2 separate regions of the Homo sapiens genome follow, and region 1 is linked to region 2. The links come from fine-mapping of genetic effects on gene expression. A gene starts in region 2. The other region holds a variant in brackets. All regions are shown on one strand. Distances are from middle to middle. Region 1 has its middle 23 kb from the start of PLRG1. Region 2 holds the start of FGA (fibrinogen alpha chain).

Evidence for each region.
Region 1: its variant is fine-mapped to the expression of FGA in lung (GTEx, PIP above 0.99).

The regions. Positions count from the first base shown.
Region 1 is chr4:154,523,403-154,531,918 of GRCh38, reverse strand. It overlaps the pseudogene WDR77P1. Among named protein-coding and RNA genes, the nearest start is that of PLRG1, 23 kb to the left of the region's middle. The variant T/C (reference allele first, on the strand shown) is at 4,313.
Region 2 is chr4:154,587,390-154,595,837 of GRCh38, reverse strand. It overlaps FGA (fibrinogen alpha chain), which reads left to right and starts at 5,096. Exons shown (of 5, transcript NM_021871.4): 1 at 5,096-5,204; 2 at 6,276-6,401; 3 at 6,862-7,045; 4 at 8,181-8,326. The coding sequence starts at 5,151.

The DNA.
Region 1 (8,516 bases), 64 kb after region 2:
CTGAGTTGTTTATACCTCCTGGGGATAAACATATTTTGTCTTGTGGCTTCACCATAAACCAAATTTATTAAAGAAAAGGACTGACATGCATTTCAAGTAGTCTTTCTTTATAGCTTTCATTTGTGGTGATAAGTATCAACTGGAAATTTCTGAAAATGAAATTGAAATGACCCACCCCTGAGAAGAGCAATATTTGGTTGGCGTCTCTAACATCATACTTAAAAGACAGCCTATGAATTTCTTAAAAACTTTCAGACATTTCAGTTTGTTCATCTTCAGCACCATCCTGATGATTCTGTGATATCATGTGATCTTTTCTTCTGATCAGATGTCTGCACTTCTGGAAGAGGAGAAGGTATAGTTCAGAGCAGAATAAAACCCTGGTTTTATTCTTGGCTCTGACGCTGATTAATTGTGCAATGCGCTTGTCTACAAGTGACTTCAGTGACTGCATTTTTCTGTTCCTCAGTTTTCTCACTGGTGAAAACGAGTGATAATAGTTCTAGTCTCATCGAGTTGTTGTGCCTATTAAAGAGTAAAGTCATTGCAGGGCCTACCAAATAGTAAACACTCTACGAATATTAGCTATTATTTTGCTGGTTATGTTAATTGCCATCATGGTTGGTTACTGCTGCTGAAGTTTTTTATGGTGTCACAGGTTCTTTGCTCTCCTTTCTATCCTGAGCTGCTGAATTAGTTCTAGACTCTAGGACACCTGTCTCTCCCAAGGCCTTTGGTAAAGCGGCTCTTCATGTTTTAGGTGCAAATCAAGATGTCTCTAGACATATCCAGTTTCTGGTGAATGTCATGTTGATCATTCAAGGAGAAAATAACATAAATGCCTTGGATGGCATATCTATATATTATGCATAATTTACTGTATGTTTATTTTTAATATAATTTATATTTTATATAATCATCTTCATCTTTATATGTAACATAGATAATTGTATTATATATAACACACTTGAAATATTTGGCTTTGTTAATTGCCATTTAAAAATCTTAATGGAACCTTAATTACTTGGTTATTTATCTATATATTTCTCATGAAACAAGGATTATTTTTCCCCACTACCCAGTCCTCCCCCAGATATGTACCTGTGAATTAATTCCACATCAACTCTCTTCAAAGACCCAGCTCTGTTTTTGTTTTTTTTTTTTTTTTTTTTTTTTTAGGAAAGGGGCATATGGTAGGGTGAGTTAATTTCCAATAAGCATTCTCCTCTTTCACTTTATTTTATTTTATTTTTATTTTTTGGCAGGGGTCAGTGGGGAAGGTGTAGGGGATGCATCCACATAAAATGCTACATTTCTCAGACTTTTATTCAGTTATGTGTGGCTATGAAGGCAAGTCCTAGCCAGTGAGATTTAATCAGAAATGTTGTGTGGGACTTTCAGAAAGTTTGTTTAAAGTTGTTGACTCAGCTGGGAGATGTGGGCATTCACCCTTTCTCCTGTCAGGAAAGCAAATGTGATAGCTGGAGCATATAAATGTGACAGCTTGTCCCACCATCTTAGGACAAGAGGTGATCCTGAAAATGGAAGCCAGCATTAGGATAATGTAGCAGGGATACAGAAGCAGCCTGAGGTCATTATGAATACAGTGCTGCTATTCCAAGTCTAGACTGCTCATCTTTAGATATCAATTACATCATAGAGAAATAAACTTCTATCTTCCTTAAGCTACTGTTGTTTTGACTTTTATATTTTATAGGCAGCCACATTGTTTTTTAACAGATCCAGGGGACTTGCTTTTGAGTGCCTCCAGAAGTGGGTACATATCCATGGCAATTCAGATGGGAGCTCATCAAAGTCTCAGGGCAGGAGAGAAGGCGAAGGAATGGTGAGAAGTTGGCTTTTGTTGAATGAGCAACGGTCCATGTATAGGCAACAACGCGAGGAAGGCATTCATAGGAAAGTCACAAGAAGAAACTTGTAGCTTTTCTGCCAGGGGCATGATGATGAGCTCACAGGAATGGCAAGGGATGGTCTGTAGGTGTTGGCTGGGCTTCTTGATGTTTCCAAGGGGTGGAGCTGACTCTTGGCTGACTCTTTCTTTTTGAAGAGGTTATAAACTCTCTGCTCTGGTCTCCTTGGAGCTTCTCTTTTTGAATCTTAAAACCCTAGTTTCTACTTCAAAAATAATATTAAAATAGTTCCTTTCTCCTTAAATTCCTGCTTTAACAATCTTAATTCTCTCCCAGGCAACGTGATTGCCTCCAGCTGATGAAGGGAAGAGTCAGGAAGTGGAGGAGAGAAAAACACAAGGATTAATATGCAGGATGTTATCTCACTGCAAGTACCTCCACCATGGTGTCTTCTAACACTATGGTAAAATGACTGTTAATATGAAAAAAAATTTTTGTTTAAGCAAATCAAAATCAGTGTAGTTTCTGTTGATTAAAAAAGTACAAAAGAAAAATATCCATCAAACTTCCTAAGAAGTATTGTCCTGTACTGAGCATGCCAAATGTAAGAGAAAATTCTTAAAAGGAGAACCCATAAATACGGATGTTGCCAAAAAGCATGACATTATCATTTAGTAGATTGCTTTATGAATGAAAACAGCTATTTGAATAAAAAGTCTTGGCTGTCTACCACCCTCTTGGAAGCTGTTTGCAACGACAATTGCAATTAATAATAATTATATTATTAATTAATAATAATTGCTTCCAATACCTTTGGTGGCATTAGAAGGTACTGTTTTCCTTAGGAATTAATTGTAGGATTTTTCATTTCATTCTCACAAGGTGTGAAGGTGGAGACATATTACAGTAAATCATTTGCATTGGAGTGTGGCCAAGAGAGGGAATGTTGCAAGAGCAAAATACGATGAATGTCCATGAGAGAGTGGGAGGCCATAGTAGCTACAGGGAAGTAGGATGGAGCCAAAATAATCTCAAGTGCTTGTATGACTGGGACTATTAGTGAGGAATAAGAAACAAGACTCCCTGAGCGAGCCTGTGACTAAATGAAAGTACCAGAGTCCACTTTCACTGGGGTCAGAATGTTAGCTCTTCCTTGTCCTCTGCTGGTGTTTGAAAAATTTGATATCCATTATTAACATAGGTTCAAAATACTGAGAGAAATAGCTAAGGGATGATCCCCAGATACAATGAAAGTAACTCTGTTTTCTTTATTTCTGGGTCCTAGCTATGGCAGGTTATCTCCTATTTTAATAAGATATTAGAATTTTGCATGATTCATTCACTCATTCAACAAACACTTATTGACAGGTCACCCTTCCCTCCTTCCAGCACAGAGGCAGGTTTTTCTCTGTTTTTATTTCTCTTAGTTATTTCAGTTGGGAAACCTGTGTAACTATATGCAAAACGTATATATATGCACACATTTATTTAAAATTATTGCTGAATTTTGAAAAATCATTTATGAAAAATTATGACATAACATATATTATTATTCTAGTATACAGGAATTGTAATGTGGGCCAAACAAGTCATTCTTGATTTTCAGATGTGCCATAGTTTTAGTTTTACATTTTATTACTTTGTAACATTACAGATTTTGCCAGTTCATTTAATCAAACTTTATTAAATTGTGTAACTGTAAATGGAACTTTCTAAGTATAAGTCTATTCTAGCTAGCAAAATGTATTTTATCAAGTATAGTAACAGAAGAGTGATATACATAGGTTAGAAGTCCGTATCTATGAAAAAAATTCTTCTAAGACTTGACATAATTGTAACCTTATATTGGACTGTAAACTTAAACTTGGATGTATATATTGTCATTTACATAGTGTCATATATTCACACTAACTTGCTTGTCTGTGAACGATTAGAATGCTGAACTTTCACATTTAGACTGTTTTAAAATTGTCCACTACTGAGACTTAAATCAATTATTGATAATAAAACTGCATTATTGATTAATATGTATAAAGGACAGCTAATGTGTTAGTATTACCCTATCATTTAACTTGAACTATGGATGAAAAATGTAAGATATTCCTTTAAGTACTTTCTGTTCAACATCTTTTAAGAGAGACTTGGATTTGAGGGGGTAATAAAACATTTATTCTAGTGTAATGTCACAGATTTGCAGATAGTTCATTTTAAATCTCTGAGGTCTACACTCATTAACACTGACTTATAAAAAAGAAAGAGTTCCATTTACAAGATATTTGGTAAATGAAGAAAAGCATAAATATCACCAGCCACACTGTTCCCTACCCGCCCCCAAGCCCCAGCCACAGGGTGGAAGACATTCATGGACAGAAGCATGCTTTTCAGGGTAAATGTGACTTAGGATTCTTCCTGGATGGTGCATACGCCTCATAGTTCCCCAT[T/C]CTTCCATCCTGGAGAGAGCTGGAGGAGTGGAATGGGGTGTCTGGGAATTCTCCTAACACAATGGGGCAATGTCTTCACAGCATCCCTCCCCATTTGTTGTCATGACTTGCACCTGCAGGGCGCTCACTCCACCAGCTACCGCCCACCTGTGCAGAATCCTCATTTCACTTCCCTTCATCAAAGACCCAGCTGGTGGATGGAGCGCTAACTTCTCCTGGCTTAATTTTCTTTTTCTTAAATAAGGAGACAAATTCAATAAACTGGAACATTCTTCTGGTTTGATTGTGTGGACCAATCAAAATGTGGTCTTTGATAGCTTCTGAAATGAAACATACACACTATTTTATTAAAGGCAGAAAAACAAATATAGATGAAAATATCCAAAGTCTGCTACCAACTTTACGTTTTAAAAAATCCTCAGCCCGATTTTATATAACCATAAGCAGAAATTTCAGAAATATTCTCCTCAGAGGACAAAGTGAAAAAAGTTTTTTAATGCTTCTAACCCTCTAATGAGACTTATTTTCCTTAAACGGTTGGTCTGCCCTTATGTCCTGTCCTGTAACCTGTTTTGTTTGTTTGTTGTTTTTTTACCCTCATCTTTTCTGTGATGATAAATCTGTTCTTTTTTGTCAATGTCCTTGATCTTCCCAGAGCCTGGCAGGTTCCACCCCACCCTCTCCACAGACCTCCCTCCCCTTGCCTTCAGTTCCCTCATCCTCTTCCTCCTCAAGCTGCTCTATTACCAGTAACACATTTTAAATGTGTGGTTGGCTTTTTATAGACAATGGTTAGATTTAATATGTATGATTTATGTTTGAAAAGCAAGCAAGTTGTGGAAAGACTTGGGAATCGAGATTTGTTCTCTTTCTTGGATTGAAATCAATTTTGAAGGGTAGCACATAATGCCACATGCAGCCTATGGAACTTTATATCACACTAGACTTGGTTTAGTACACATGGATCAGGATGATGCTTTCAAAGGTGACATGCTCAAGATTTTGTTCCCCTTGGGAAATTCAGGACAGTGTTTCATCTTTTTTTTCAATAATTGAGGCCTCTTGTCTGTAATATCTTATACTTTCCAAAGAATTTTCATGTATTTTTTTTTAAATTGTGGTGAAATACACATAGAATTTATCATAACCATTTTTAATTATACACATCAGTAGTGCTGTGTACATTTGCATTGTTGTGCAATCAATCCTGAGAATGCTTTTCATCTGCAAAACTGAAACTCTGCACCAATTAAACAATAAACCCCCGTTCCCCTTTCCTCGCAGCTCCAGGAAACCACCTGTTTACTTTCTGTCTTTATGAATTTGATTACTCTAGGTTCCTCATATGAGTGGAATTGCATTTATCTTTTTACAGCTAGCCTATTTCACTCAGCATGGTGTCCTCAAGGTTCATCCATGTTGTAGCCCATGTCAGAATTTCCTTTCCTTTTAAGGCTGAATAATATTCCATTTTATGTATATACCACCTTTTTATTCATCCACTCATGTGTCAATGGACACTCGGGGAGCTGCCACCTTTTGACCGTTGTGAATAATGCTGCTCTAAACATGGGTATACAAATATCTCTTTGAGATCTTACTTTCATTTTTTTGGATGTGTATCCAGAAATTGAATTGCCGGATCACATGGTAATTGTATTTTTCATTTTTTGAGGAATTGTCATATTGTTTTCCATAATGACTGCACCATTTTTGATTCCCATCAACAGTGCACAAGGGTTCCAATTTTTCCACATCCTCACCAACACTTACTTTGTTTTGTTGTTTTTCAAAAAAGGCAGGCTTACAAGATGCCTAAACTGTTTATTTCACCAGCCAGTATTTCTGATTTTCTTCCTGAGGCTGAATTTTAAAACTTTAAAAGTCTACACATACTGCATTTAGACTTTCTATATGCAGAGAAAGGGGCTGAGAGCAGAAGAGGTCAGGCCCCAGGCTGGTTTTGGGTGGGAAAAGTGGCAAAGATTCCTCTGTAACAGTCTGTGTCAGTTTTCTAACAATTGAAATGCCTTTAAGCTCTCCAACATCCACAAAATTTCCTCTAGGGCATCTATGACAGAAAAACACTCCTCTTTCATATACACAACACCAGCAGGGAGCAGAGGGAAGGGAGTTGGCAGAAAGGAGTGGACATTACACAGGCACAGGCCACATTTTTAATTCATCCAGAAAAAGGACTTCTGATTCAGTTTAATGGAAATGAGTTGTATAAAACTATAACATGTCCTGCCTCTTCCTCAAAACGAGCTGGGCTGAATTTTTGTGATTGGAAGCATTTCCCATAACGGTGAATTAAGCGCTATAAAAAATAAAATCAGTCCCATCTCTATGAGTAGCATAAGAGCTGCTTCCAGGAACCTAGGGATGCCCACATTCCATACCCCACCCAGATATGGTCAATTCCTCAGACAGCTACATGGGAAGAATAAAACCCTTTTGTCAACTTTTTTGGGGAGTGAGGGAGAGATGGTGTTCAGGGGAGATGTGGGATAGATTTTTTTTAAATCCCTCCCCCACCGTCCCACCTCCCTACCAAAACCTACACACACACACTCAAGACGAACCTGCATGCCCATTTTTAAGAAAGCTTTTCTTTCCTGTGACTACAGGATCCCAGCATCCAGCCTCCTTCAGGCTGCGAGACGATGCCAATTAATGGCACAGATCTAATGTTTCAACATACTACAGAAGGCTCCTGTGTTATCTCACAAGCTGAGGGAACAGGGGCAAAGAAGTGGACTCTCATGGGGGACTTGCTGTTTGTCTTAAGTCCAATCTACTCAGCAACGCTTTCAGGTCCAGGGGCTGGGAGAGGTTCTGTGGGCACTTGTGGCAGACGACCTGATGGTCCCAGCCCATTGTGGTAAGCAGAAAGTGATTGAGGGGGGATCAAGCAGCATCTCTCGCAAGGTCACAGTGGCCTCGGCTTCTAAACACCTCAGAAAGGCTGGAGTCCAGCACAGCCAGTGAGCCATCTTCGCTGTAAGAGGCCGGGAAGGGAACACGGTGTGAGGAAAACACCAGCCCAATGACACATTGGTCTTGTACAGCTGAGCCAAGGGCACCTCTCCCTCTCTTGGTGTCCACAAGGGAGACTGTCCCATTCCCATCACAAAGATGAAGACTTCACTTTGCTGAGGATGCCAAGCCAGTGAGGTGGGAAGGCAGCCAGAGGCACTGCAGCCCACCTGTGACGTCGGCTTGGTCAGAGAGTATCCCAGAATAAAATTCTACTGTTCTCACTGCAGGAAAGAAACACAGAGTCCTTGCGGGGAGAGGCAGCAGCACAGGTGACCTGCCCAGCATGAGATCGGTATGAATTCAGTGCCACCTGCAGAGCAAGGTCCCAATCCTTGATGCTGAAGTCTTTGCTGCCGCTGACAGCCGAGAACACTGAGGGTAGACACAGTGTCTCCATGCTCATACTTGCAGAACTTGCTGACGGTAAGTGGCTCGTTCTCATCCACCTCCCACAATTCACCAGCACTTGAATCAGAAGCCGCTGTGATACCTCTCTCCTCCCCACAAGTGAGGTCAGCCACTCCAGCCTCCATCTGGGCTCCAGCAGAGCAGAAGCCTTCTTTGGGGGTGGCACAGGGGTCCTTAAAAAGGCAGAGGGGACCGGGCGCGGTGGCTCACGCCTATAATCCCAGCACTTTGGGAGGCCGAGACGGGCGGATCACAAGGTCAGGAGGTCGACACCATCCTGGCTAACACGGTGAAACCCCGTCTCTATTAAAAACACACACAAAAAATTAGCCAGGTGGTGGCAGGCGCCTGTAGTCCCAGCTACTCGGGAGGCTGAGGCAGGAGAATGGCGTGAACCCCGGAGGCGGAGCTTGCAGTGAGCCGAGATCGCGCCACTGCACTGCAGCATGGACGACAGAGCGAGACTCCGTCTAAAAAAAAAAGTCAGAGGGAGCCGGCTCAGCAGCGACCACTGAGACTGGAGGACCCGGAGCAGAAGCCCCCATGGGACTGGTACCGCGCAGCCTCCAACTGCGTTCCAAGCAGGCCGGTGCGTTAGGGGGCGGTAGGGAAGACGGGTTTCCTTCGGCATCTCCAGGGTTCCAACTCCAACCTGGATTCTGCTCCGGTAGCAACTCCCACGTGCTGCACCTCCTGTTTGCTTTTGGTTGTTGTTGTTGTTTTCCCCTTGATAGTAGCCATCCTAGTCGGTATG
Region 2 (8,448 bases):
GCAACAGAGCAAGACCCTGTCTCTAAAAAAAAAAAAAAAAAAAAAAAAGAAAAATAAAAAAACTACAGAAAGTTAAATAGCTTTGCCAATGTTGTCCAGTGAATTCATTACAGATCAGACTGTATTTATAAATGCCAAAATCTTGTAAATTTTTATAATTTAGTCATTTCAAAATTTAGAAGATAATTTTAGTACTTTCCAAGAATGCACTTAATATTGTTTTAACAAAATAGTTCCTGTCAAAGTACTATTATCTTCTTGTTATTAGGATACCAAATGTCTTTGGAAAGAATGTACAGATTCATGTAGATTTTTATGATAGATGACATAAGAATTTTTCAGAAACATCTTGTATTTTGAGACCTGAATTAAATCTGACTTTTTAAGAAATATCTCACACAAACAAAACAAAAAGCAATACGTAAGTGATATAACACTCTCTGCTGTGTGTTCTAACAGAACTCAGCATATAGCTTACAGATTTTTTCCATTGTTTTATATTAGATTAAACCGTATAAAACTGTAGATATTATTGTTTTGACCTACAAAAATGTCAAGTTTACATAGTTTAACTTAATTCTCAGCTGCATAACGTATTTGACTTGCTTGCCAATTGTAAGCAACTTGAAGGTAAAAGACTATACATTGTTTGCCTTTTTATCTTAAGCACATAGTATGCAGGACTAGAGAAATAATATACATAGGATAAATGATTGCTAAATTTAGACAAATGAGTGAATGAGTGAGCTGCTCTCAGAAATCAATGCATTTAATTTCTGGTGTCAGCCCAGGGTAAGACAAATATTCCATTCAAAATAACACTGTTGTTTTGTTTTGTATTTTTAAGTTGTATTTATACAATTGCAAATATATAGATAACTGGTTATATATTTTACTTTTCCTGTGGAAGCTGTGATGAGTAGATATAGTTTAAAACTGAAACATATAGCTATAGAATTTCTACTCTTTCTGTATACATTATATACCACACAAATAAAGCTATTAAAACTAGTAAAAACTATTCTAGTCATGCCAAAAGTTATGGCATAACAAATGTGTAAATTCCTGCATTCAAATGTTTATATTAACATTTATATTTAAATGTTTATATTACATTAACTTCAAAAGGATAGATATATCAAACATCCTTCTCATTAGAGCTAAGGTAAATAGGATGTAGTTATCTATAGGAAAAAGACAAACCTGGTGCAGTAGCTCATGCCTGTAATCCCAGCACTTTGGGAGGCTGAAGTGGGTGGAGCACCTCAGGTCAGGAGTTCAAGACCAGCCTGGTCAACATGGGGAAACCCTATCTCTACTAAAAATACAAAAAATTAGCCAGTCATGGTGGTGGGCACCTGTAATCCCAGCTACTCAGGAGGCTGAGGCAGGAAAATCGCTTGAACCCGGGAGGCAGAGGTTGCAGTAAGCTGAGATGGCGCTGTTGCACTCCAGCCTGGGTGGCAGAGTGAGACTCCATCTCAAAAAGAAAAAGCCAATGCACGGCAGATTATAATTTAAGCAACTGAAAATTTCTTCCATCTTTTTTCCAGTTTTGCACATTTAAAGATACGCTTATTGTCACATGCTTTTTAAAAAATGATACTCGTATCATGCCTATTAATTTGCATGGTTTTCCAGCTAAACAAAACCTACTCCTCCAAAGCTTACAATACAGCCTGTTCATGGGGCAGAGAGCCCAGCCTAGTGAGCAGCCTGCAGTGTGGGGCCAAACAGTGAGCTACAGAAGTGCCTCATTAGGGACTCCTGGTACTACAGTCAAAACAAGGGAACATTTTATCATGGAGCATTGGGATATTCTAGGAACAATAAAAGCTACTGTTTCTAGAGCTCCTGCTGTGTATGGCCAACATTTTACATACACCATTTTACATAATCTTCACAGCAATCCTGTAAGACAAATATCATCATCCCATTTATAGCTCAGAGAATTTAAATAGTTTGCCCATGTCACTTAGCTGGAATCCAGGTCTCACATGCTGGAAAGCCCACCATGCATTGTCACCACCATATGGTGACAGCCTTCCATTTCTCCAGCAGATACTGAGCAGCAATTGCTCTATGCCTGACATTTGTGCCAGTCCTTGTGCCTTGGCCTCAGGAAGCTTTGTGTAGGCAAGACACAGAATAAACAAATACCTTCCCAAATGCACATTGTCCAGGAGTTATAAGGTACTGCGTGGAAAAACCAAGCAGAGTCAATGGAATGACATGCGAGAGTGGCAGCTCTTTAGATCAGGTGGCCAGAGAAGGCCTCTCTGAGTAGATGCCATGTGAGCAGAGGCCAGGAGTAAGAAAGGGTGTGAGATGTGCTGATTCTGAGAGGCAAGGATAAAGCCCTCAGGTGGCATCCTTGGAAACACCCTGACATGGCACTAGGGTGGTGGCATTCAACCAAATTGTTTTCTGTTAATTTACCTTCAATCAGATTATGTTCAGCCGACTCACCTAAGGCCTACCAGGTTACTCTCGGGAACTTCTTTGCTATATACCATGTTCACCTCCCAAAGGGGCACTTCTTGTGGGCATAGGAAAATGTGTGCAGAGATCAAGCCTCACCTTCCTATCTAATCCTGACATTTTGCCAGTGCAGTCATTGTGAGTGAGTGTAACCCAGCTTTTCATGGAATCATTGCCCTCTGGAACCTGGATGGGGCTCTGGGGCTTCCTCTTTGCTCTGCAGTTAACTCTAAAATCATAGCAAGCTGCTTCAGGGGTGAGCTTGATCAGACAAGGAGTCTTCCATAGAGCAGACAGTGCACTGCCTTGCACCAGGGCTTCCATCCATTTATAGAAAGCTTCACACGTCTGCAGTGCTGGGGGAGGCAGCCAGGCAACTTCGCATCTCTGGAACCCACTTATGCTTTCTTGCTCAATGAGGGCCCACACCTTTTGGGGAGAATATAAAGACCAATAAAACATTTCAATTCTCAAGTTTATGATCTAGTGGAGGAGACAGACGGTACTCCTATAATGATAAATGCCATTAGTGGTGCACAGTCTAAGGAAGTATGAAAGAACATGAGATTCCTTTTAATTGGACATTGAATCAGGTACCCTGCAAAATGTCTAGCAAAGAACCCAAGACTTAGTAAACATTCAATACACATTAGCTATTACTCTATTAGGATTGGCTTCATGTAGGAAGCAGAATTTGAGGCAAGGTAGGATTGCCAGATAAAGTACAGGATGTCCAGTAAAGTTTGAATTTCAGATGAACAACAAAAAAATTTTAAGTGTGTCTCAAATATCACATGAGACATACTTATACTCAAATAGATTTGTTGTTTATCTGAAATTCAAATTTAACTGGGACACTCTTATTTTTATTTGCTATTTCCGCCAACCTAATACATCTGGTAAATGTAAGCTGAAGATGTTTTTTACCTTTATTGAAGTATAATTGACAAATAAAAATTGCATAATTTAGGTTGTACAGCTGGATGTTTGTTTTTTTATTTTCCTTTAAAGGGGAACTTCTCTCTGATTGGTGTTTTGATACACATAAACATTGTGAAATGATTACCACTATTAATCTAATTAGCACTTAAAACACCTCATATAGTTATCTTTTTGTGTGGTGAGAAGACTTAAGATCTACCTTTTTAGCAAATTTCAAATATACAGCATAATATTATCAACTATAGTCACCATGCTGCACATTGGACTCCAGAACTTATTTATATTGCATAGCTCAAACTTTGTGCCCTCTAACCAACATCTCCCCCATTTCTCCTATGCCTCAGGCCCTGGCCACCACCATTCTACACTTTTCTTCCGTGAGTTTGACTATTTTAGATTTCACATGTAAGAAAGATCATACAGTATTTGTCTTTCTTTTCCGTTTTTTTTTTTTTTTTTGAGAAGGAGTCTCACTCTGTGGCCCAGGCTGGAGTGCAATGATGCAATCTCGGCTCACTGCAACCTCCTCCACCTCCCGCGTTCAAGTGATTCTCCCTGCCTCAGCCTCCTGAGTAGCTGGGATTACAGGTGCCTGTCACCACGACCAGCTAAGCAGTATTTGTCTGTCTATATCTGCTCATTTCACTTAGGATAATGCCCTCTAGGTTCATCAATGTTACTGCAAATGACAGAATTTCCTTCTTTTTCAAGGCTGAGTAATACTCCATTGTGTATATATATATATACACATTTTCTTTATCTACTCATCCATCAGTGGAAACAGGTTGTTTTCATATCTCGGCTATTGTCAATATAGCTACAATGAACATGGGAATGCAGGTGTCTCTTCAAGATCCTGATTTCATTTCCTTTGGAAATACACTCAGAAATGAGATTGCTAGCACAGAAACAGGAAATAAATGGTATTTTTCATGGCACTTTATGATCTCCCATAATTCACTGAGTATTTCCTATGTGACAGTCACTGTTCTGAGAGATTTACAAGAATTAACTCATTTATTCTTCATAAAAGCATGGGGTAGCTTATCAGCATCCTTATTTTATAAATGAGGAAACTGAAGTATAAAGAGGTAAAGTAACTTGTCCAAGAACATAGAGCAGGGAAGTGGTGCAGCTTGGATTATGAACCCAAGATGTTTTGTTCCTGGGGCTGCTGTCATCTTAATATTTTAAATAGAGAAAAGTAATATGTTCTAAATAAACTTATAGAAAGCCTTCAGGGCCAGCTTATCCCCAAAGTTATTTTTTTTATAAGCCAGATCACCCAACCCTAATTTCTGCATAAAGTGAAATATTGTTTGCTAAATCACTACTACTGGGGGCTACAGCTAGCTTACCTAAGCACCTTCTATATTCTTTCACGTTTAGAAATATGGATATACCCTCCTATGCTCCTCTTTTCATTCTCAAAGCCACCCTGTTCCTGGAATGTGAGATCTCCTAATTGTTGACTGGAGAATCAAATGCTACCTTTGCAACAGCTTATCGGAAGCAAACAAGCTGAGGGGAATTGAGCAAGAATTTCTGGGATACCAACAGCATAGGAGGAACAAAGGACGTAGAGGGAGGGTTGACTGTCTACACAGGACAAAGCCAATGATTAACCAAACCTCTTGCAGATTTAAATAGGATGGGAACTAGGAGTGGCAGCAATCCTTTCTTTCAGCTGGAGTGCTCCTCAGGAGCCAGCCCCACCCTTAGAAAAGATGTTTTCCATGAGGATCGTCTGCCTGGTCCTAAGTGTGGTGGGCACAGCATGGGTATGGCCCTTTTCATTTTTTCTTCTTGCTTTCTCTCTGGTGTTTATTCCACAAAGAGCCTGGAGGTCAGAGTCTACCTGCTCTATGTCCTGACACACTCTTAGCTTTATGACCCCAGGCCTGGGAGGAAATTTCCTGGGTGGGCTTGACACCTCAAGAATACAGGGTAATATGACACCAAGAGGAAGATCTTAGATGGATGAGAGTGTACAAACTCACAAGGGAAACTTTAGCATCTGTCATTCAGTCTTACCACATTTTGTTTTGTTTTGTTTTAAAAAGGGCAAGAATTATTTGCCATCCTTGTACCTATAAAGCCTTGGTGCATTATAATGCTAGTTAATGGAATAAAACATTTTATGGTAAGATTTGTTTTCTTTAGTTATTAATTTCTTGCTACTTGTCCATAATAAGCAGAACTTTTAGTGTTAGTACAGTTTTGCTGAAAGGTTATTGTTGTGTTTGTCAAGACAGAAGAAAAAGCAAACGAATTATCTTTGGAAATATCTTTGCAGTATCAGAAGAGATTAGTTAGTAAGGCAATACGCTTTTCCGCAGTAATGGTATTCTTTTAAATTATGAATCCATCTCTAAAGGTTACATAGAAACTTGAAGGAGAGAGGAACATTCAGTTAAGATAGTCTAGGTTTTTCTACTGAAGCAGCAATTACAGGAGAAAGAGCTCTACAGTAGTTTTCAACTTTCTGTCTGCAGTCATTAGTAAAAATGAAAAGGTAAAATTTAACTGATTTTATAGATTCAAATAATTTTCCTTTTAGGATGGATTCTTTAAAACTCCTAATATTTATCAAATGCTTATTTAAGTGTCACACACAGTTAAGAAATTTGTACACCTTGTCTCCTTTAATTCTCATAACAACTCCATAAAATGGGTCCTAGGATTTCCATTTGAAGATAAGAAACCTGAAGCTTGCCGAAGCCCTGTGTCTGCTCTCCTTAATCTCTGTGAGAGTGCCATCTCTTCCTGGGGACTTGTAGGCATGCCACTGTCTCCTCTTCTGGCTAACATTGCTGTTGCTCTCTTTTGTGTATGTGAATGAATCTTTAAAGACTGCAGATAGTGGTGAAGGTGACTTTCTAGCTGAAGGAGGAGGCGTGCGTGGCCCAAGGGTTGTGGAAAGACATCAATCTGCCTGCAAAGATTCAGACTGGCCCTTCTGCTCTGATGAAGACTGGGTAAGCAGTCAGCGGGGGAAGCAGGAGATTCCTTCCCTCTGATGCTAGAGGGGCTCACAGGCTGACCTGATTGGTCCCAGAAACTTTTTTAAATAGAAAATAATTGAATAGTTACCTACATAGCAAATAAAGAAAAGGAACCTACTCCCAAGAGCACTGTTTATTTACCTCCCCAACTCTGGATCATTAGTGGGTGAACAGACAGGATTTCAGTTGCATGCTCAGGCAAAACCAGGCTCCTGAGTATTGTGGCCTCAATTTCCTGGCACCTAATTTATGGCTAAGTGGACCCTCATTCCAGAGTTTCTCTGCGACCTCTAACTAGTCCTCTTACCTACTTTTAAGCCAACTTATCTGGAAGAGATAGGGTAGGAAGAAATGGGGGCTGCATGGAAACATGCAAAATTATTCTGAATCTGAGAGATAGATCCTTACTGTAATTTTCTCCCTTCACTTTCAGAACTACAAATGCCCTTCTGGCTGCAGGATGAAAGGGTTGATTGATGAAGTCAATCAAGATTTTACAAACAGAATAAATAAGCTCAAAAATTCACTATTTGAATATCAGAAGAACAATAAGGATTCTCATTCGTTGACCACTAATATAATGGAAATTTTGAGAGGCGATTTTTCCTCAGCCAATAGTAAGTATTACATATTTACTGCTTTGACTTTATAACAGAAACAACAAAAATCCTAAATAAATATGATATCCGCTTATATCTATGACAATTTCATCCCAAAGTACTTAGTGTAGAAACACATACCTTCATAATATCCCTGAAAATTTTAAGAGGGAGCTTTTGTTTTCGTTATTTTTTCAAAGTAAAAGATGTTAACTGAGATTGTTTAAGGTCACAAAATAAGTCAGAATTTTGGATTAAAAACAAGAATTTAAATGTGTTCTTTTCAACAGTATATACTGAAAGTAGGATGGGTCAGACTCTTTGAGTTGATATTTTTGTTTCTGCTTTGTAAAGGTGAAAACTGAGAGGTCAAGGAACTTGTTCAAAGACACAGAGCTGGGAATTCAACTCCCAGACTCCACTGAGCTGATTAGGTAGATTTTTAAATTTAAAATATAGGGTCAAGCTACGTCATTCTCACAGTCTACTCATTAGGGTTAGGAAACATTGCATTCACTCTGGGCATGGACAGCGAGTCTAGGGAGTCCTCAGTTTCTCAAGTTTTGCTTTGCCTTTTTACACCTTCACAAACACTTGACATTTAAAATCAGTGATGCAACACTAGCTGGCAAGTGAGTGATCCTGTTGACCCAAAACAGCTTAGGAACCATTTCAAATCTATAGATTAAAAAGAAAAGCTCATCAGTAAGAAAATCCAATATGTTCAAGTCCCTTGATTAAGGATGTTATAAAATAATTGAAATGCAATCAAACCAACTATTTTAACTCCAAATTACACCTTTAAAATTCCAAAGAAAGTTCTTCTTCTATATTTCTTTGGGATTACTAATTGCTATTAGGACATCTTAACTGGCATTCATGGAAGGCTGCAGGGCATAACATTATCCAAAAGTCAAATGCCCCATAGGTTTTGAACTCACAGATTAAACTGTAACCAAAATAAAATTAGGCATATTTACAAGCTAGTTTCTTTCTTTCTTTTTTCTCTTTCTTTCTTTCTTTCTTTCTTTCTTTCTTTCTTTCTTTCTTTCTTTCTTTCTTTCTCCTTCCTTCCTTTCTTCCTTTCTTTTTTGCTGGCAATTACAGACAAATCACTCAGCAGCTACTTCAATAACCATATTTTCGATTTCAGACCGTGATAATACCTACAACCGAGTGTCAGAGGATCTGAGAAGCAGAATTGAAGTCCTGAAGCGCAAAGTCATAGAAAAAGTACAGCATATCCAGCTTCTGCAGAAAAATGTTAGAGCTCAGTTGGTTGATATGAAACGACTGGAGGTAAGTATGTGGCTGTGGTCCCAGATGTCCTTGTTTCTGAGTAGAGGGAAAAGGAAGGCGATAGTTATGCACTGAGTGTCTACTATATGCAGAGAAAAGTGTTATATCCATCATCTACCTAA